3 linked regions of the Homo sapiens genome follow. The protein of the gene in region 3 purifies or fractionates together with the protein of the main gene of each other region. This does not show direct contact. Each region holds a gene or a part of one and is shown on either strand. Other genes may lie near its edges.

Evidence for each region.
Region 1: the proteins of RAB17 (region 3) and CHM purify together in Homo sapiens (affinity purification with mass spectrometry; 3 studies listed by BioGRID and IntAct, with this or other methods). This does not show direct contact.
Region 2: the proteins of RAB17 (region 3) and MOCS1 purify together in Homo sapiens (affinity purification with mass spectrometry; 3 studies listed by BioGRID and IntAct, with this or other methods). This does not show direct contact.

The regions. Positions count from the first base shown.
Region 1 is NC_000023.11:86,037,549-86,044,585, forward strand, and holds part of CHM (rab proteins geranylgeranyltransferase component A 1), read right to left. Parts: intron 1-7,037. UniProt on the Homo sapiens protein: Substrate-binding subunit of the Rab geranylgeranyltransferase (GGTase) complex.
Region 2 is NC_000006.12:39,931,453-39,939,367, forward strand, and holds the start of MOCS1 (molybdenum cofactor biosynthesis protein 1), read right to left. Parts: upstream 3,011-7,915; 5' UTR 2,966-3,010; coding exon 2,843-2,965; intron 2,772-2,842; exon of another isoform or gene 2,574-2,771; intron 1-2,573. UniProt on the Homo sapiens protein: Isoform MOCS1A and isoform MOCS1B probably form a complex that catalyzes the conversion of 5'-GTP to cyclic pyranopterin monophosphate (cPMP).
Region 3 is NC_000002.12:237,587,734-237,595,216, forward strand, and holds the start of RAB17 (ras-related protein Rab-17), read right to left. Parts: upstream 3,002-7,483; 5' UTR 2,734-3,001; intron 1-2,733. UniProt on the Homo sapiens protein: The small GTPases Rab are key regulators of intracellular membrane trafficking, from the formation of transport vesicles to their fusion with membranes.

The sequences.
Region 1 (7,037 bases), on a different chromosome or scaffold from region 3:
AGAATAGTTTCTGTGTTCAGAACATATTTTACTAATGTGCCACATGACCTTTACTGCATTACTCATAAAACTGTGAGTCTAAAATAGATGATGAAAGAGAATAAGTATTCATTTCAAAAATGTTATAAAAATGATACAAAAAACCCTTCCCCTTTATATAAAATCCTATCATGAAAATCATTTTACAAAAAATAGAAATAAAAACTTTTCAGCTTTATAAACTATTTTTTTTAATGAGCGGGACCTTGGACCAAAAAAGGTATTATCATATCCATCCTATCAATTAAGATGCATGATGTATCCATTGTAAGCACTAACAGTTGTTGAAGACTGTAGGAAACAAAAGAATAGTCAACCAAAAGAAAAAAAGCTCCATAAACAGGACAATGAGTCCCATATTTGATCTTGAAAATTTAATTTGGAAGAACACTAAAAAAGACACAAAATGGCAAACCCCAGCACATGCACAAGTATTTCAGTGGGAAATTATGTACCTTGGGATTGTGAAAGGAAAACAAATCTCCCCAAAATCACTAAACCAAAAGGAAAAGTCAAGTTGGGAATTGTGTTGGGCAAACCTCTCTCCCTTTCTATTCCTAAATAAGATCACTACAAAGATTTTTAAAAAGCTACATACCTCCCTCACAATTTGCCCATAAGGAAATTCCTTGTGGACAACCAAAGGACAGGCAGAACTCAAAGTCATTCCTCTGTTCCCATGAGACAAATGCGTATCTGATGGCTTCCTCCGCCCTACTGTTTCACTACAGACTAAGGCATAAGTGACTATTCCTCATTTGTCTCTTAACTAACTATGACCCAGAAGCCTCCTCCCCACTTCGAGTTGTCTGGCCTTTCCTGATGGAACCAATGAATTATACATCTTACAAACGTTGATTAATGTTTCATGTCTCCCTAAAACATGTAAAATCAAGCTGTGCCCCTACCGCCTGGGGCACGTCATCAGGACCTGAGGCTGTGCCACAGGTGCATCCTTAACCTTGGTAAAATAAACTTTCTAAATTAATTTGGTAATCTAAATTATTTTGGTTTACAGGATCAATGAAGAATTCCTACTGAAGCAAATCATTTCTTAAAATGTAACTGTAATCTCTGATCCCATTTCTGGCCATTGCTTTAGTGGTTGATTCTCTCTTCAGTTTTAAGGGATAAACACAACCAGGTCATTCCGTTCACCTTCATCAAAAGAAGGTTTGCAAGCTGACACAGATGTCATGATGCTGTCAATAATAAGAAGCTGACATCATGAGGTTACTGCTGGAATCAGGATTTTAATGTCAACAATGATAACTCTCCAAAATAAAACAACTGCCAACCACAAACCCAGGTTAAAATAATCTCATCTTGATACTATGAGCTATTTTTTCAATTGAAAGATTCTAGCAAACTTAATCTAATACCTCAACCTTAGTCAGAAAAACTTTCGTCTTAACTGTTTCACCTACATCAAACTTAGCTGAGCCTCAGGCTTCACATTTGAAAAATGGAGATGATATAGTATCTACTGCAGGGTTACTGTGAAAATGAGACAATGCATTGTAGGGGCTTATCACCGTGCTTGGCATATAACAAATGTTAGACAATATTTTTCATGTGTTTGACAGTGTGTTGTAGGTACTAAAAACAATTTTCTAATTATCATTGATTTTGCTTACATAGCTTAAACCAAAGTAACACAGGTGTAGAAAATAAGGATTTGAACTCACAGCTCAGCATCTTCTTAATATGCCTCATATCCATGTGTAAAACTTTTTCTCTATACTTTAGCTTGTGTAAATTTTCTCATGATGATTTTAAATCCACATAAATAAGACTAGTTTAACAAATGTGCAAAGTCAGATCACAGAAACATGATTCAAAACATTTCAAAGCAATATAAAATGATTAAAACCACCATTAACTAGTAGCCATAATAACTCAATGAGAACACTGGCCTAGACCAAAAAAAAAAAAAAAAAAAAGACAGGTGAGAATACTCAAAAGAAAGAGTAGAAGTTAGTGAGTGACAGGGACAGGAGGCAGGGAAATTCTAGGCAGAAAAGGGCAGGTCCCTGAGAAAACCCCACCCTCAAGCCTGAAACCATGACGCAAAGTGAGAACTTATATCCCCATTTTCCCGTGCGAATGTTGCCTTTTCCGAAACCACTTACGGCCCACCCCACACCCCATCCTGTGTACATAAAAACCCCAGGCTCAGCCAGCAGAGAGAAGAGAAGCAGTTGGACATTAGAGACTACAGCTGGACATCAGAGAGAAGTGGCTCGACTTCAGAGGGACACCTTGACAGCGTAACTTCGAAGAAGAATCTGGCCAGAGACAGCTGGCATTCAGGGGAAGACTACCTTCCTGCCCTTTGCAGCTCCCCTTCCCACTAAGAGCCATCTCCATCAGCAATAAGATCCCCTACATTTACCATCCTTCAATTCATTCATGTGACCTCATTTCTCCTGGATGCCGGACAAGAGCTCGGGAACGATGAGTGTGGACACAAAAAGGCTGTCACACTTGCCCTTTGCCCTCACTGGTAGAAGGCAGCCGATTAACACAAAAAGGCAGAGGGCCCACTGAGCTGTTAACCCTTAAGCCGTCTGCGGACAGCAGAGCTAAAAGAGCACTGTAACATTCCCTCTGGAGCTTCAGGGGTTGCAGGCACCACCCCCGGAGATGCTACCACAGGGCCAGCACAGAGTTGACTCCTGCCAGTGCCCAAAAGCACTCGCCCCGGCTCCTGCACCCACTCAACTGCACATCCCCTCTTGTGAGGGGTGAAACACAGCAGGTCCGAGTGAGTGGAGTTCATTCCTCCTGGCACAAGAGCGGCAGGCTGACTCCAGCACTCATGTATTCCAGTTCCTGCCTTGTTCACTCACGTGCTCCCTCCTATGAGGAGTTGAAAGCGGTGGGCTGAGTAAACAGGGTGCTCCCTTCACAAGTCCCATGAAGGGGTCAGGAAAATATCCTGCTTCACCAGTACTTTTTAAAATGTGATAAAAACCAAATCAGTCAAGGAATACATTACCAACTTCAGCTCCTGATAAAATCCAGTATGAGATGAAACACTTATTTAAGCACCATACTGGCCAAGCTGCCTCTGGTCTCTTCTCCTGTCTGTTTGCAAACTGTTCTTTTCAAAAACACCCTCAATATGATAACATGCTAGCTCTCATAATCATGCTCTAAAAAAGCAGTATCTGTGATAAATTATCAACTCTTTTTACACCAAACCTTAAATGAAATTATTAGAAAAGCAAAAACAAAACATCAACCTTTCAATGTATCCCTATTTTGCTGGCCACAACTAAACGCCCCCAAAATGTTTCCAATGAGCACCAACAGTGATTTTTAGCCTATTTTACTTTTAAATATATTTATATACAGAACAGGCACAGACTAACTTTTTAGTTAAAGAATGCACTGAGACTGAATAGCAGATGATTTAGCATGAGTTAACAGGTCAATTATATGGAATTATAATTGTTTCTGTGCATTGGGATTTTATGTTAAACATGAGAATGTAATGGTGGGCTGCCATATTTGAATTTAATTACTGTAGCCTGTTATCCAAAACATCATGAAAACACTGGAGAAAATGAGAAAAATGACATGAGGCATGGGAGATGAAAATGATGCTGCAGAGGAAATTATGGCAACAGATGTGGCTCTCTCTGAGGTATTGGCTCAAATTCATGATTTACAGAGAAGGGTAAGCATCTCCCAGAGAGTCTTCTCCAGAGTTAGATAACTCTTTACTTTTCTAGGTATTGGAAGCAAACAAAAACATACTTTTCCATCAATAAATGCCTGAAGAAGTGCAAAGCATTTTTCAGAACAGCAAAATCTGCAGGCTATCTTTCACTCCTATAGCATCTCTTACGCTGACAACGGAGTGTTTCATACTATACCTCAAATAAGACCGATACTAAATCTGTTCCAAAAACTATGAGGAAAACAAATGATAAATAATGCAAGCTGGTGAACAAAAGAGAAGACAACAAAGAAAGGACTTTTGAAATACCATTTCACTCCTACTCACTATGTCATTCAGCTGATCAATATACTCTATGCTTTAAATTTTTTGAACCTGCCCTCCCCAAAAACATATGTGTGTATGTGTGTTTATGTATATATATATATATGTTATATATATGGTGTGTGTGTATATATATATATATATATATATATATATATACATATATATATAAAAAACAACATTCATCCTTACTACATGCATTCTGATATATTCTACCTCATTTTTATAATGCTGGAATTCACTCCATGATCCACTAATAGGTGGCATCTTACAATTTTTAAAAATCCACTGTAGACAATAGATGTGAAGATTTTGGAAGTACACAGGGAGGACTATGGACATCCTGTGATGTGAGAACCACATTCAGGCATCCTGGGAGAAGATTAAGTTAGAAATATAGGAAATCACTTGTGTTAAGGCTGGCACAAACAGATATTTGGTAAATATCAGTTTTCACAACTCCTCCTGCAATATTACTATCCCCCAAGGCTTACAGAAGTGATGCTATTCCAACATCATCATAAGTCAATGAGCTGCCAGTCAAGGTTAACTACCTTAATGTTTAAATTCACCAACATCAAGGAATGGGACTGGAACATCCCAACATCAAGGAAAGGCTACTTAAGTGACCTTTTCTGAAAAAAGCAGCCTATCATTTTTAAGAAAATGCCTTTTCTAATCAGTCACTGTATTAGGCTGTTCCTGTGTTGCCATAAAGGAATGCCTGAAACTGGGTAATTTATAAAGAAAAGAGGTTTAATTGGCTCAGGGTTCTGCAGGCTGTACAAGCATGGTACAGGCATCTGCTCGGCTTCTAGGGAGGCCTGAGGGAGCTTTTAGTCATAGCAGAAGGCAAAGGGGAAGCAGGCATCTCCCTTGGTGAGAGGCAAGGCAAGCAAGTGTGGGGAGATGCCACACACTTTTAAACAACCAGTCGACCAGGCACAGTGGCTCCCATCTGTAATCCCAGCAATTTGGGCCACCAAGGCAGGTAGATTGCTTGAGTTCAGAAGTGCAAAACCAGCCTGGGCAACATAGGCAGACCCCATCTCTACAAAAATAAAAAAAAAAAAATTAGCCAGGCATGGTGATGCATGTCTGTAATCTCAGCTACTCAGGAGTCTGAGGTGGGAGGATTGCTTGGGCCCAGGAGGTTAAGGCTGCAGTGGGCCATGATTGTGCCACTGCACTCCAACTAGGGTGACAGAGCAAGACCCTGTCTCAAAAAAAAAATTAAAAAATAAACCACCAGATCCTGCAAGAACGAATTCACTATTACAAGAAGAGTACCAAGCCATGAGGGATCCACTCCCATGACCCAAACACATCCCATCAGGCCCCACCTCCGACAACGAGGATAACATTTCAACATGAGATTTGGGCAGGACAAATATCTAAACCCTATCAGCCATTTTTATAGGAAAATTTCTGAAGTATATGAAACACTGACTTTCCTTCTTAAAAAGACTACACAGAACAGAATTTAGCCTTTTCTCAAGGACATGGTGTCATAAATAGATATATACAATGGTAATTTTAGGGCTGGTAGATCCCTACCTTGGAGATCATCTATTGAAATTTCTCACTTTACAGATGAACTAAATGATGTCACAAGAAATTCTGTAATTTTCCCAAAATCACACAATAGGATGGTCATGTGATTATCATACACCATGCTGCCACATCTACTACTGTATGGTGCTAAACACTATCTAGCAAGATAATCAGGATTTAGGGGCAGTACTCCTTATAATTTCCATGTTTATCTTTGCTATCCCTTCTCTTTCCCCATAATCTTTAGCAATAAAACTTTTTTTTTTTTTTGAGATAGGGTCTTGCTCTGTTGCCCAGGCTGAAGTGCAGTGACACAACTATAGCTCACTGCAGCCTCAAACTCCCAGTTTCAGGCAATCCTCCCACCTCAGCCTTCCAAGTAGCTGGGACTACAGGCACGTGTCACCATACCCAATTAATTTTTGTATTTTTTTTGTAGAAATACAGTTTTGCTGTGTCACCCATTTCAGCTACTTGGGAGGCTGAGGTTTCAAACTCCTGAGCTCAAGCAATCCACCTGCCTCGGCTTCCCCAAGTGCTGGGATTACAGGCCTGAGCCACTGCACCTGGCCAATGAAACTTTTTTTTTTTTTTGAGACAGTCTCACTCTGTTTCTCTGACTAGAGTGCAGTGGTGCCATCTAAGCTCACTGCAACCTCCGCCTTCCAGGATCAAGGGATGCCTGTGCCTTAGCCTATAGAGTAATGGGGATTACAGGCCCGTGCCACCATGCTTGGCTAACAATAAAACTCTTAAATCAAAAGAATATATGTGTTTATCCTATGCAGTAGAAAAATTAAGCTAACCTACTCTGCAGCCCATCTTAGGGGAAGAACTCCAAAAGATGTGAGCAGTGTGCTTTTAAAAAGAAAAAATGCAGGCTGAATGTCTACATGGTCTTCAAAAAGAAAGAAGGATGCAATGAAAAGCCTACATTGTCTTAAGAACAGCTTTGGGGATATGACTGTTAGGAAGGCCAGAACGTTCCTGAGAATAGGCAATACAGTAAACTTCACAAGGGAAGGGACTAGGTTCTCAGTAAATGTGGGTTGAATGACCTGAAAAATGAGTATTTGTCACTACACTAAATGTTATCAGGCCTTTGTGATGTTTGATGTAAGTTTGCATTTTAGGTGTTTTTCTCTTCCCTTTCCTATACAAACTGTCATTTGTATGTCTAATAGCAACCCCACCAAACATAGTCTTTGCAGAAGTTGATAACATTCCTTGTATCTTCTAAGGGGGTGGTTCTAATATGCTGAGCTTGCTAGAATTATTTTTAAAATGAGGATGAATATGTTCTAAGTGATGATCTCAGGGATTCCCCTATGTATGAAGCATGTCAATATTATCATATAGATCTTATAACTTCCATCTTGACTGCTCTTCTGTTGAGTTCTTGGCTCTGCTGTGCTGCAGATTACACAGGCTT
Region 2 (7,915 bases), on a different chromosome or scaffold from region 3:
TAATCTCTTTTAAATGAGAGGACCCAACAAAGAGCCTAGCCTAGCTCGATTCTCCTTCCCCCTCCCCTCATTCCCACCCTAAGTGTGAGGTCTTTACACCTATAGCTTCTGAGGAGGACAGTCACATTTCGCTGAAACATGGATTTTGAGGAGCTGGGCAGATTGGAAGTCAAGATGACCTCCTGAAAGCCCTCTTTCCCTCCTCCCCCTCATTCTCCCTCACCAGTGCCTGCTGTACTCCTTCTACCTTCACCCACACCCACTTCCTTGCAGCCTAACCCCTAGCCAGCATTTGTTTTTTCTGGCCCCCTGAACAGATGGGTGCCTTTGCCTTGCCTAGACTCACCCTCCCTGCTTCCCCCGCCACAGGCAGCAGGCTTCATTGTTGCCCAACAAAGCCTGCATGGAGCCTCAGAGGGAGAAAGAGGGATACAGCACTCCCAGGCTAGGCTGAACCCTACAAAGATTGTCTGGGCCACCCCAGATGCAGGCTGGCAGGTTGCTGTGTCTCCCCCACCCACCTCCCCATTGACCCACACACTACTCCTTTCCATAGCTAGAAGCTACTCGACCTGTTCTTGGACTCAGCCCACAGCCCCCTTTCCGCAATCCTCACAGCCAGCTCCCACTTAACCTCACTTCTCTCCCTCACACCCTCATCCTGCCACACAAACAATGCCCAGTGGCTTTCCATCCTAGCTCTCCAAGCACCTCCCATCCCAAACCAGACTACCAGAGCCCTGTGTGGGCGTGTTGGGGGAGACAGACCCTGCAAGAAGGGGTTCAAGGTGTCCCCACCCCAACTGGCAAGCTCTGGAGATGAGCAGAACATATCCATTTCCAGACTCACCTCCCCTTAGAGTCTCCTCAAGACAAGTTTCTGTGCCCTCCCCCATCTTATGATGGGCTGGCCCAGTCCTCTCATTTTATAAACATGAAGCAAAGGGAAGTGACAGCCCCAGGAGCCAGGTGAAATTGGAGGCGAAACTGGCGGGTGAAAACATGGGACTCCCTGTCCAGTGTGGTCTACTATGCCACGTGACTCCTCACTAGTTAAGTTTCAAGCAGCTACAATTATTGGCTGAATCCACTGCCTGCACAACCCTGCGTTAAGCGCTTGTGGGGATAGAAAGGCGGAGGTGCACCCAGCCCTCAGGAACTCCCAGTCTGCTGAAGATAATCCTAATGAGATGTCCAGGATTCAATGTGAGTTGACAGAATAGCTATCCAACAAGTCCAGATGGGAGGGGACTCACAGGACAGAGCATGTGCCAGTGGCAGCATGGATAATAGTAATTACCACCAACATTTACATAACACAGCACTTACATGGGCTAAGCTTTGTTCTAAGTATATACGTTAACATACGTTAACTCTTTTAATCCCTGTGACATCCTATGAAGTAGACACTTTTATTCTTACTTTGCAGATGAGAAAACAGACACTGAGAGGTAAGGGGACTTGGTGAATCCCTAATAAGGGATGGGGCTGCCCCAGAGTCTATGTTCTCCTTTCTGCCACATTACCCCTCCCTTCACAGTGTAAAGGGATGGATAGGAGCAGGCTCTCTCCCTGGCCTCCACACAGGGAGGACGGAAAAGCATTAGAGTTGAGTTCCTGCCCTCTACAGCTCTGCGACTGGAGGAAAGTTAACTTAGATTAGCCCCCTCATCTGAACATACAAACTCTACTCACCTCACATGGCTTAGTGAGGACTAAATGCTTCCACATGTGAGTCACTCAACACAGGTTCTCTCATGAAAGACCAGTACAAAATAAACTAGGGGGTGGGGGGCTGGAGAAGAAAAGTCCCTTTTCTTGAATTCTTTAAAGATCTCTCAGCCATCTTTGCTTTCCTATCTCTTCCTCAATGATGTTCAGAGTTTGAGGATACTAAAAAGTCTTCACTTCCCAACCATGGGCCTGCTTATCTGAGGATCCCAGAGGGGCTTAGATTTGGGGAAAGCAAATTTGGCGGAAGTCATTGAGCAATATAGGGGAGGAGGGAGCAGTGATCTTATGAATCCCAGGACAGGAAGCCTAGTTCTGGGAGACGGGGAAAAAAACGCCTAGATAGGTACCGAAAAGAGGTTTCACTAAATGAAAAGAGGTACTTTTCCCCCCAAATTATTCCCTAACCACCTGAGCAGAAGAACAACCAAAACCTAAAACTTTTAATGACTTGAAACACTCTGAGGGGTGCTGGCAAGGACTGAGGGATCTTACCCAAAACCCTAAAGACAGAGGAATTAATTTCTCACCTGGAAGAAGCCACGTCCTGCCCTGTTCTGCTCTAGGATAAGGCTGAACCCTCCCAAGGTTAATAAAAAAGACAAGGAGAGTCAGCAAAGGATGGGTTACAGAGCCCTGGGACTACAGTAACAACTCATCGTTGGTGACACCGAGGTGACATGTTTAGTCAGTCGCACTATGAAGCAGGTGTCACAGGGACACCTGATCTCTCAGCTCTTGGGATAGGGAGGGAAAATGTTTAAGAAAGAGGGTGGGTGCAAGGCAAGGCTGAAAGGTACTAAGACACCTCACTGGACCCAAAGTCCCAGTCCTCTGCTTACCCGAATTTCTGGCCAAGCTCAGGGCTAGAAGGGGTGGCGTGGCTGGGGGGCAGGGAGGTTCTGAAGCGGGACTCCCAGGAACCTCTCCCGCTGGGCTAGCGGGTGAGACCGGGCGGTCCATCTGGAGAACATCGCTCCACTGAGGAGTGCCAACGGGTCCCTCCCAGAAGCGGTCAAGCAGATAGGCCGGGAGCTACTGGGGGAAAAGGGCAGTGTGCCGGGGCCACTCCTGCCCCGGGAAGCTGTGGACGCAGGCGGGGTGGGCTCACCTCCGAGGCAGCTCGCGCGGACTCCCCGGGGCAGGGCTGGGTCACCGGAGCCCCTGAGCTGCAGCTCCGGGCGCTGGACCTCAGAAGCCGCCGCAGCATCCGGGACAGTGGCCGCGCCGCCATGAAGCCTGATACGAGCGGAACCGCAGCCCGCTTCGGGAGCACACTGGCCGGGCACTCGCCCCCGGGGTCATCCCAGCAAGGGCGGGGAGGGGCAGGGGGAGGGCGGGACCCGCGCAGCCAATAGGCGAGGACGCAGTCCCGCGTGGCCTTGTGGGAGCTGTAGTACGCTCCCTGTGCCCACTTTCCTGGGCCGGGGTAGCGCTCTAGGGCAGAAGGGTAAACTCAGGTAAGGAACGGGGTTCTTTTCCTTCCAGTTTTTCTGGCTGCTCTAGTCTCAGATTTAGGTCGTGGTGTGACAGTAGGCAGGACAGGACAAGGGCCAAACGAATGAGGCACTGCCTTGGATGCAAAATTTAAGAGGGTGCCAGGTAAACTGCGGTTATCAAAGTAAGTAATTTTTTAATGTAATATTTCAAAAAATCGTAATAAATTTTCAGAAGTCCGTGAAATATCAACATTCTAAATAAAAAGATTTAGCCTACACTTGCATGACTCACATCACTCAGTGCACCATAGTGCAGATTGTGGTTGTAAAACGGTCAGTTAGGTCTTTCAAGATACACTTCTCCAGTTGTGCCCCAAAAGGATATTAACAATCTTTTTTTTTTTTTTTTTTTTCGTGGAGAAGGCAAGAGTATATGAGAAGTCACAGAATGAGTGGACAACATTTTTGAAATGCTTCTTATACACCAAGCACCATGCTAAATGTTATTTAAAACAATCCTGGTATGAATAGAATGTCCTTTTTGCAACTGAGGACATTGAGGCTTAGAGAGACCAGGTAATTTTCTCGAAGTCACACAGCTGATAGTGGGTTTCAAACCCAGGGCAATCTGCTTTCTACAGTCATTCAGTCAAGATTCAGTATGTGTTAGGAATGGTGGGGTGTGCCTCTTCCTCTCTATAAAAAGCAGAGTGCTGTAGTCCTTTAAGATTTTGGATAACACACACAATAATGAGCTTATGTACTAAGAATAATTATGCTCAAACCAGCCTGTTGTATCCAAAACCCTGTCCCTGTGGAATTGCAAGAATAAAACACCGGCTGGAACATACAGCTGCCAAGTGCATGCTTAGGAAGTGGGAATATAGCTCCTGATCTTGAAGAATTGACCGAATAGTGGGAGAGGAAAAAATAACTGAATATAACTGACTTTTACAAGTGCAGTGGGACTGTCAGAAAAGCTGAGATGATTTTAGCCTTAGATTCAATGTGAATTTCTCACAATGATACTCAAAATTCAGAAAATATATTGTAGGGGATGAAAGTGTATCTGGGGTGTGTTTGAAACTGATGAGACAAGTATGCCAGAGGTCTGTTTGCAAGGGGCCTGAAGACCAACTGAGGACTGTTCAAGCTCTGTCCACTGCTAAGTTTAGATATGTCTGGATTTATCAGGAAAACTGGGTATGGGGGAGAGAAGGATAAAAACTTTTTTTTTTTTTGTATGTATGAGGCTTGAAGAGCCTTCTAGAGAGGACTCAACCTCAGGGAAGAAGCCATCTGACATATGAACTTGATCCAAGAATGTCACCAGCTCCTTGGAGCCTCTCTAGATTCCACCCTCTTCATACAAGTTGTATGTGATCATCCCTTCACTTGGGCTTTACTGTCATCTTTTATAGAACTTGGGTCTCCAAGGCAAGACCTAAGGCTTACTCAGTTCTGTTTGAAGGCTGAAATCCTCTCCATATTATCATACATCTACTTGGACTCCTGTAGTGCTGGGAAACTTTCTGGCTTCCTGATGTTGTCTGGTCCACTTAAATGTTTCCCCACCTATTAAAGTTCTTACTTGTATTCAGCAAAAAAGTGCCCCTTTCTGTCAACATATGGTGATTAAGTGTCATCAGGGCCGAATCCTCTGCTAATGGCTGGGAATAAGGAAATACTTTCAAGGGCTCACAGCCTGCAGTAGGGCTCTGATGTGACAAGTCCATGGATTGATTTGGAGGGTTCTGTAGACCCCTGAACTTGAATGCATAATACTGTATTTTTTTTTCCTGGGGAATGGTGGCTTTTTGTCACATGCTCAAAGAGCCTCATGGAACATACTGTCCTAGAAATCTCTCTTTTGTGATACCCTCCTATTGGCCCTAGTTTTAGCCCCCTAGGCATATACATCCTCTCTTTGAGACTTTAACCCAAGTACTCTCTTAGTGATAAACAGCAGCAGTTATTGCCAACCCTTGTACACAATGTCTTGTGAGCCACTGCACTATCTTCTCTAATACAATTTGGTTTGCCTAGGTCCTGGTGGCAGACTGTATTTGCAAGATGGCTGCAACAATATTTCCTGTCTCGTATGTTCTAGAGCTGTGTTGTCCAATAGAAACTTCTGCAATAATGGAGATATTCCATGTCCTGACATAGCTATTGAACACATGAAATGTGGCTAGTGTGACTGAGAATTGAATTTCTAATTTTATTAAATTGTCATTAATTGAAGTGTAAACAGCCATGTGTGGCTACTGGCTACTGTATTATTCAGCCCTATGATAGAATTTTGCTTTCTCCAGAAGGGGTGGAATTAACTTTCCTTCCTTTGCATCTGGGTCAGTTTGTAACTTGTTTGTAACAGTGTGAAAGTGATACTGCATGGCTTTTGAGACTAGGTCAGAAAAATATGATGCAATTCCCACCTTACAATTTATCTCTAGTGATCTGTTCTCCAGCTGACAGGAAGATATGTTTCTCCTTATTCCCTACCCATTTTCTCCGCACTTGACTTTCATCTCCCAACTCCCCCTCAAAAAAAGATCCAGGATGTGATTTCCAGCCATATGTCCATTGTCTCTTCTAATAGGAACCTCAAGTGTCCAGTCATCTGAATATTCATTCAAACCTATCCCCATTCTATCAGTAACTGTGGACTCTCCTTGCAATTTTAAGCATTTTAATGAAGCAATAAAGTTTCAAAAAATATTGTATCAATTATTCCTATCATTTCTCTTTTGAGGACCTTGTTCAGGATAGTCTTTATTTGCCCCTCCAGATCCTTCTCCACCCTGCTCTGAGGACCAGGAGATTGACTTCTACCAACTGCATTGATGGCATCATCCAGGTGCCCTGACCTCTGGTTTCCAGGTGGATCTTGCCAATAGGGAGCATGGCAGGAGATCAGAGAGCAGGAGGAGAGAAAAGCTGGATTATCTATTCTTCCTGATCTCCCCTGTTTTGCTCTGGCTACAGCTGTAGTTGGTGTCATCTGGCCTCTCCGCCATGATTCCACCTCCCACTTAGTCCAGTAACACTATTTCTCACATTTGTTTCTTCACTTCAGACTGGGGTGGGATTGGCTTTCTTCTGCTGATTGTCCTTGGATGCCTCAGCATTCCTGTTGCCCCCCTCAGCCCGCCCACCTTAACCTTGCCCACACCTCCAAAATAGTCTCTCTTAATGGTAAAGAGCAGCAGTTACTTTTTTATTAAAACTTCATTAAAATATCCCTTCAAAACTTTTAGCTGAGTATGCCGTTTCTTGCTGGTTCCCTGATACAGGATTCGTGGACTCCTCCCTTCCATAGTACCCTTTGTTAATAGTGGCAATTACAACAGAGTGACATTGTTTATTTATATGCCTTCTGCACTATAAACCCTCTGAGGGCTGTTGCCAAATCTAAATCATCTGTAATCATACCACCTAGCATGGTATTTAATGCACAATAGGCTCACAATAAGTACATTAAATGGCAGATTCCATATCCTTGATTTGCCTGTAAGATGGCTGTTATGATTTGGATATGGTTTTTCTGTCTCCACCAAATCTCATGTTGAAATTTGATCCCCAGTGTGGCAGTGGTGGAAGGTGTGGGTCATGGGGGTAGATCCCTCATGAATGGCTTGGTGCTGTTCTCATGCTAGTGAGCAAGTTCCCAGGGGAAGGGATTAGTTCCCATGAAAGTGTGTTGTTATAAAGCCAGGACACTTGTCCAGTTTGGCCCTTTTGTACTGATGCTAGCTTCCCCTTTGATCTTCTCCACCATATCTTGACATAGCACAAAAGCTTTCACCAGAGGCTGAGCAGATGCTAATGTCATGCTTCTTGTAATGAGATAAATAAACCTCTTATCAATTGCCCAGCCCCAGGTATTCCTTCTATAGAAGTACAAAACAGACTAAGACAGCTGTGTCAGTCAGCCTGGGCTAGATTGTACTGTTGTAACAAATAACTCTAATATCTCAAAGGCTGAAAATCACAAGTGTTTATTCTCTCATTTGGGCTACATGTCCAGGAAAGGTGTATTTGTCTGCTTTACATTGCTGTAAAGGAATAATGGAGACTAGGTAATTTATAAAGAAAATAGGTTCATTTGGCTTATGGTTCTGTGGGTGTATAAGAAGCATGGTACCAGCGTCTGTTTCTGGTGAGGGCTTCAGGAAGCTTCCAATTATGGTAGAAGGCAGAGGGAAGCAGGCATGACATGGGGAGAGGAGGGAAGTCACATTAAACAACGAGCTCTTGCATAAGCTAATGCAGTAAAAACTCACTTGTCACCTAGGGGATAACACCAACCTATTCCTGAGGGATTTGTTCCCTTAGCCCAAACACCTCCCACCAGGCACCACCCTCCAACACTGGGGATCAAATTTCAACATGAGATCTGTAGAGGACAAACATCCAAACTATATCCAAGAGTTAGCTGTGAACTTTGTTTCTGGTCAGTGTTGCCCTCACTCTGGGTCCCGGCCTGATAGGGCAGCGAATATCCACATAGAACATTGGTGGTTACCAAGAGGGAAAAAGAGTGTGGCAAACAGCAAACTGGCTCTTACAGCTTCTTCCTGGAAGTGTCACACATCACTCTGCTTTAAGCAAGTCACATGGCTGTATCTAATTTCAAAGGGAAGAGCAGCTTAGTCCTCTCTCAGAGAGGGAACGCACATGCTGGCGAACAGTAAAATAACCTTACTCCAGGAACAAACTTCCCCTTGCTCTCTTATGTATCA
Region 3 (7,483 bases):
CCATCTTAGCTGGAAATACTCAAGTTTCACCATCAAGTATGATGCTGGCTTCAGAGACGGATAAAAAACATAACATTAAGTTTTCCATCTGTGTTTCTTAAAAAAAAAAAAAAGAAAAGAAAAAGAAAGAAAAAGAAAAAGAAAAGCTCTCCAGGTGATCTCAGTATGCAGCCAAGACTAGGAATCACTGCTAGAATTCTGTTTTCCTTGGAGCTGGGAACAGTGTCTAGCACATAGTAAGTACTAATTCCTAAGAAATGAATGAATGAGGCCAAGCATGAAGAGCACATAACACAGCACCTGTGCTTTGAAATATCCACCTGGATTGAGGATGATTTCTTGGGGCCAGCTATGGTTTGCATGGATCTTCCAAAAAGCAGATTTGGAAACTTAGTCCCCAGTGCAACCATGCTAGGAGGTGGGGCCTAATGGAAGGGGGTTGGGTCATGAGGACTCTGCCCTCGTTAATCCACGCCCAGCACAGATTAACACTGCTGCGTCTTGCACATCCACAAGCCTGCGTGTTCTCTTGCCCTTTCACCTTCCACTGTGGGATGACACAGCAAGAAGGCCCTCAACAGATGTAGACCCCTTGGCCTTGGACTTCCCAGCCTCCAGAACCATAAGAAACAAATCTTTGTTCTTTATACATTTCTGTCCCAGGAATTCTGTTAAAGCAGCACAAACAGACTAAGACAGCATCTGAGGCACAGTGAGAGTGCCTGGGGTGGGAACTTAGTCCAGCAGATGATCCGCTCAAGTCAGCTGGGGACAGGCTCTCAGAGGTCAAGGCACGGCCCAGACTTTCCACCCTTTGGTGGAAGGGGAAAGGGTAGCGGGGGCGGGGTGAGGGAAAAAAGACTACTCAATGGCTACAGTGTACACCGCTCTGGTATGGGGTGCAACAAAATCTCAGAAATCACTAAAGAACATATCCCTGTAACCAAATACCACCTGTTCCCCTAAAATCTATTGAAATAAAAAATAATTTAAAATAAACAGAGATACCCCTTCAAGTTCTCTTTGCTATTTATTTGCATAGGTTAATAAAACCTTTCCTAAGTCAAAAAATCTGTAGCCCGAAACATGTCTGAATTAACTGAAACAGGTGGACTCTGAAGGAATGCACCATGACCACTGGGATGCCGGCGTCTCATTCCTTTGACAATGATATGTCTCTTTGTTTAATGAAGTTATTTTATTTTTGGGCTGGGCGCAGTGGCTCATGCCTGTAAAGGCACTTTGAGAAGACGAGGCAGGTGGATCACTTGAGGTCAGGAGTTGGAGACCAGCCTGTCCAACACGGTGAAACCCCATCTCTACTAAAAATACAAAAATTAGCTGGGTGTGGTGGCACACGCTTGTAATCCCAGCTACTCGGGAGGCTGAGGCAGGAAAATCGCTTGAACCCAGGAGGCAGAGGTTTCAGCGAGCCAAAATCCCACCATTGCACTCCAGCCTGGGTGACAGAGCGAGAATCTGTCTCCAAAAAAAAAGGTTATTTTACTATAAACATACAAGTGTCAATATAAAAGAAGCAGCTACCCATAACTCCACCCCCGTAATACAACCACAAATGGTATTTTTGCCTACTTCTAGTTTTTTTCTATGACTCCTAAAAACAAACCAAAACCCATAGTTTTAACATAAAATTATTATCCGATGGGTAAGAAATACTTAATACCAAAGGCAGTCTCACACATTGCTTCAAAATCATGTTTAATGGACATATAACATTTCTACAACTATCTCAACTTGCTGAACCATTTTCCTAATACTGGATTTTTACTTAGTTTTAATTTTTTCTCTGTAATAAGACTGCAGTAAACATTTTCTTATATAACTTTTTGTGTGATTGAGTGTTGTAAGCTTTCAATAATGAGAGGTTGGAGCCTTCTGTCCAAAGAGAAAATTAAAAGTGTGGCACCTGACCCCCACCTCCAGAATTTAATCAAGATGGGGTTATTAGTAGTGAAAGATGTTATTAGGTTGTTGAAGACAAAGATGTTTTCAGGAACACCATATTCAAGACTGGCGCTTCTCTAGTAATCTTAACTTGGGGCTTTTTAATCTCTTGCACCTCCCTTCCACTAAAGGGAAAAAAAACGGAGAGCAAATCCCACATTAGTCTTTTTTGCGGGGAAGGGGCCATTCCAGGGAAGGGTCTGATTGATGAGTCTATCGGCAACTGTGATCCTGTGTCACCCTTGCCTGGGGCCTGTGAAGAATATTGAGATTACGAGAGGTACACCTGTACATTGCATTCAGAATACAGCCATCTGATACAGAAAACACAATGTAGATTGTAAAAAGGAGTTTACAAGAAAACCTGACAAGCTTCCTAGATATCACTGGGTATTAAATTGGGAATGTTGATGTCATTTGAAATGGATTTCTTTAAGAGTTCTTCTCATTACCAGAAGTTTTTTGTGTTTTTTTTTTTCAAGACCTTAAAACCGGAACTTTCCCGAAGAAAAATGCAAATAAGAATCTCCTTCTGGGAATCCGACTTAGTGAGCCATCAGAAATCTGAACTAGGAAGTCTCCGCCCCAGCTTTGTCCTTTGATTATACACACATGGGCACATGCACAGACACAAACAAATACAGACATGGGTACAAACACGTGAGCACACACACAGACACACAGAGACTCACACACAGAGAAGCAGAGACACACACACACACAGGCAGACACTCCACAAAGGGCACAGAGGTTTAAACAATGACTCACCTGTTCCCCAGGCCCGGTCACTTGCAGGGAGCTGAAGAGCCTGTCATCACCAGTCCACAGCGTTGCTACCTGTCTCCGCTTTCTCCTCTCTCTGGTCCAGGGGAAGGTTTGCTTCCCTCCACAGGCAGGACAGGACAGGAGGAGCCTCTACTCCAATGGAAAACAGCCGCAGAGCAGAGGTCAAGAGCAGCAGCCTCGGACCAGAGCAATGCCCACTGGACCCCAGCGCCAAGGTCAGGCCTCTTCTCCTCCCAGAAGGTTTCAGGGCAAAGTCCACAGTGGTCATGTGGTCACCTGAGGCAGGGCAGGAGGCTGGACCTCAAAGCAGGTGACCCGGGAGCACCTGCGCGCTGCCGGAAGTCAAGTCACATTCCAGTCCTGCATTTCCTGGCACCCAACTGGAGCCCGTTTTTCAGCTTTATTCCGGGGTTTCACTTCCAGGATCTCACTTTGGCACAGAATGTTTTTCTTGGCTCCTTCCTTGGAGCTGTATGGAATCTTTGTTGCACTTGAAAAACCAACAGCCCAGAAGAGAAAAGAATATTCCGGTCAGATGAATTAATTCCTCCCACTGTCAGCTAGAAGCCATCCCTGGCTGAGCCCTGCACTGGCCAGAGGCAACTGAGTGTGAGCCAGTCCAGGGTCAGATCCTGGGCTGATGCCACCTGAGGGCGGGGTGGGGGCGTGGCCTCCGTGCACATGGGAGACTCCAGGTGCAGGAGAGGGGGAGGTGGACTTCCTCTTGGTCTTCCCAAGCCATGAAACTTCCTGGCTTGGTGGTAACAGAAGAGTCTCCTCCAGGTAAGATTTCCAGAGCCTCTGAGTATGGCTGGGGTAGCAGGGTTGGGCCTGAGGCTGAGGAGATGGAAATCTGTTGCCGTGAACATTACTCCACACAGCCAGTATACGGGAAGCCAGCTCACTTTATGTCCTCCAAACTCACCCTAACTTCTCGTTTGGGTCTCATCCCGCGGGGCTGCTGGGAAATAAGCTCCGCCACCACAGTGGTTCCTCCGCCCTGTGGGAGTGGGGGGCTCTTATGCTGGAGGGGGGACACTGGCCTGGACTTCTGCTGAGGCTCTGCCCCTCATCCCTGCAGGACGGACTAGCCAGTCCTAACACAGGACTAGCGTTGCTCTACCACGTCCAAGCCTCCTCTGAGATTCTTCCTCCATGCAACCACTTCCCCTGGGGCGTGGCCACCTCCCTGGAAGCCGCCAGCATGCTCGGCTGGGCCCCCGCACTCTGGAGGCTTGAGAATCTCTCTATTTTTGAATGACGTCCTTATCCTCTGCCCCCAGGCTGGTAACCAAAGGTCTGGGGGTGGTGACGTGCTGGGAATGGTGTAACTCGTGAGATGGAGGCTGAATGTGGAAATACATGAATGTGCTTCTCTTCTCTCCAGTTCCCTTGAAGAATCCACCTTCCTGCAGGGTTGGGGGAGCGCAGAATGGGAGGAAGATACAAATACCAATTTTATAGCAAGAATGCAAAAAGAGGCCAGCGCGGTGGCTCGAGCCTGGAATCCCAGCACTTTGGAAGGCGAGCTGGGCGGATCACTTGAGGTCAGGAGTTCGAGACCAGCCTGACCAACATGGAGAAACCTCATCTCTATGAAAAATACAAAAAAAAAAATTAGCCAGGTGTGGTGGCATGCACCTATAATCCTAGCTGAGGCAGGAGAATTGCTTGAACCTGGGAGGCAGAGGTTGCAGTGAGCTGAGATCATGCCACTGCATGCCAGCCTGGGCAACAGAGTGAAACTATCTCAAAAAGTAAAAAAAAAAAAAAAAAAAAATTAAAAAGACAAAATGGTTAAGAACCAGCTTTTTACACCCAAAATGGGAGGTTTGTACCTACAGTCAGACAACAGGTTTGAAAGCCAGGCCTTGTGTGGAGAAGGGAGTTTTGGAATCAGCTAAGCTCAACTGTGATTATGTCACAGCCCATCGCTCATGTTAGAGAGGGTCCCGACTCCCTAGAAGGCGAAAACCCCTCAAAGACCCCAAGCCAGTCCCCAAACAGCACAGAGCTGTGCCACGTGGCACCCCAGCCACCCTTTGAGCAATGCACATGCGTAAGATCTCAGAAGTGACCGGTGACGGTGCAGAGAGGCCCTGAGGGCCAGGCACGGGACAGCAGAAGGAGACACCAAGACAGGCAGGCTCAGGAGCTGGTGCAGGCAGGGCCAAGGTGCCTCAGAGGCTGGCGGTCCAGGCAGACATTTTCAGCAGAGACCACGGGGAAGCGAGGACCTCTCACAGATGTAAGGACACACATCCCCTCCCCACACTGCCACGAAGTCACCGGCCATACTCCCAACCCAGGCACCAGTGTCCATGTGAGAGAGAGGGGCAAGGTGGCGGCGTCCGGGAGAAGCAGCGTTTTACCTGGTGATCCTTTACGTTACTGTAGGACAGCAGATCTACAGGGTTGGACGGACTGAAATTTAAAATCCCCCCCTCCTCTGTTTCCCACTAGATCAAGCCCCTGGAGAAGATCTCCTTCATTAACATGAGGTAAAACACATGAAGAAAGTCTGTGACTTGTGGCAGGGGACAGGGCACAGAGCTTCTGCAGCTCAGAGGAGAGAGCCCTGTGTTCACAGTGGCTCTCACCATGGCCTGGAGTAAAACCAGCACAGCCCCTCTAGCATCCCCGGGTGGACAGGGTCGATGCCTGTGTAGTTATCTCTGGATGTGTAACACATACCCACTGACTCGGCGGCTTACAGTAACACGCAGTTATGGCCTCACAGCTCCTGCGGCCCGGAGTCGGGGCTCAGCCTCGCTGCTCAGGGTCCCACAGGCTGCAGTCAAGACACTGGCCAGGCTGGGGTCTCCTTCTGAGTTCAGGGTCCTCTTCTGAGCCCACATGTTTGTTGGCAGAATTCAGTTCCCTCAGTAGGCTGAGGTCCCCATTCCTGCTGGCGTCAGTGGGCAGCTGCTGTCAGCTCTTCAAGGCCCCTTCACACAGGGCAGCTTGCTTTCTCAAGGCCAGCGAGAGATGCTCTCTGACTTCTAGATCCTCTTTTAAAGGGCCCACCTGATTGGGGCAGACACCCCCAGCACAATCTCCCTTTTGCTCAACTCACAGTCAATGGACAAGGGACCCTAATTACATCTGCAAAATCCCTTCACCTTTACCATGTAATATAACCTGATCTCAGGAGTGACACCATCACAGTCCCAGCCCTGCACACACTCAAGGGGACAGACATGTCCACCAGGGGCTTGGAATCTTGGGGCCCATCCTAGAGTCCGTTGTCCACAGTGCCTGAACCAAAGCTCACACAAGGGAGGCCCCCCCAGCCCAGGTGACTTCACAGCCCACTGGCACACGCGGGCGGGTGGCAGGGGAGCCAGTGCCGAAGCCCGCCTCCTGCTTGGCCAGTGTGGCAAGGCCTGGTGCTCATGCTGATCTCAAGCAACCTGACACCCTCCTCATGAAGGCCCAAGGGTACAGTGAAAGGCCAGAACTCAGATACTTAAGAGGGTCTGGGGGCTCACAGCTTCCCCTCCTGCACAGAGGTCATCTGGGAGCAACCTGCCAGATCCTCCCTCGGGAACCAGTCAGCTCCTCCCAACACCAATTTACTCGCCTCCAAAGTAAGGGGGCTGAGCCAGATGGTTCTAAACCTCCCTCCGCTTCCAGCCTCTGTGACGGATCACTCTATGCACTAAGGGCCATCCAGCGTGAGCAGGAAGCCTGTGGTGCGCTCGTGTAAATCAGAAGGTGCATTCCCATGGGGACATGGGATGGCAAGCTCAGACACAAACCTCTCGTGGAAGGCGGGTCAGGACTCACCGCCCAGACAGTATCCATAATGCCACATAGATGTGGTATCGTGCACAATCATCATTGCTTGTAGTGGAAATGAGGCAAAACGGAACATAAGCAATTTACTTACAGGACCAGAATTAATATTATTTTAACACATACCAATTTTTAAGTTTGTCTCTGGCCATTTTATCAACTTTTCTGTGTTACCATTGACAGGGAGAATATTCGCAATGCCACTTACACAGGCCACGTAGGCAGGCATGCACACATTCTCCTTCCAAAACATGTAAAATTATATCATTGTGGAGCAGGAAGGGCCCCCTGGGGAGGATGTGGCCTGAGTGCCCGCCCAGGGGCTGAAGAATCTCTGCAACTCTCCTGCCACCTGATGTCTCGGGTTCTGCTCAAATATTGACAGTGATGGGATTTCCTCTGAGAGTTTATCCCATGTGGGTTCCTTTCTAGCCAAGTCAGTCCTTTGTAACTTTCCACTCTTTACTGCCCTGGGGTTGCGTGGAGAGCCAGGCCTACTGCTGCATAAACATTTCAGAGATGTTGAAGCAGCTCTCAAGGCTTGCAACAGGCATTGCTAACGGCCTGCCCCAGATCCGTGCCCCCCTTGTTCCTTATGAGGAGATTCCCCACTGTGGTTCAGGTTGTTAGTGCCTCTCCGTATCTTCTTTCTTGCAGATGTGACCAGGTGACCCCCCTCTGGCCAGGGAACAATGGGCCGAAGTCCTCAGGGGATTTGTGGGGAAGCGCGCCCCCTCCTCCTTGGGGTTTTCTTGCGGAGCTGCTGTGAAGACTCAGCTCAGCTGTGATAATTACCTGAGGTCAGCTTCTCCAGAATGCCCTTATCTCCTAAGGCCTTTGAGATAAGCAGGAATTGTGGTGTCTGCCTTGCCTCCAAACCTTTATCCTTGCTTATCTCAGTGGAAAATTCCAGCAGGGATTTCTGAACACCAAG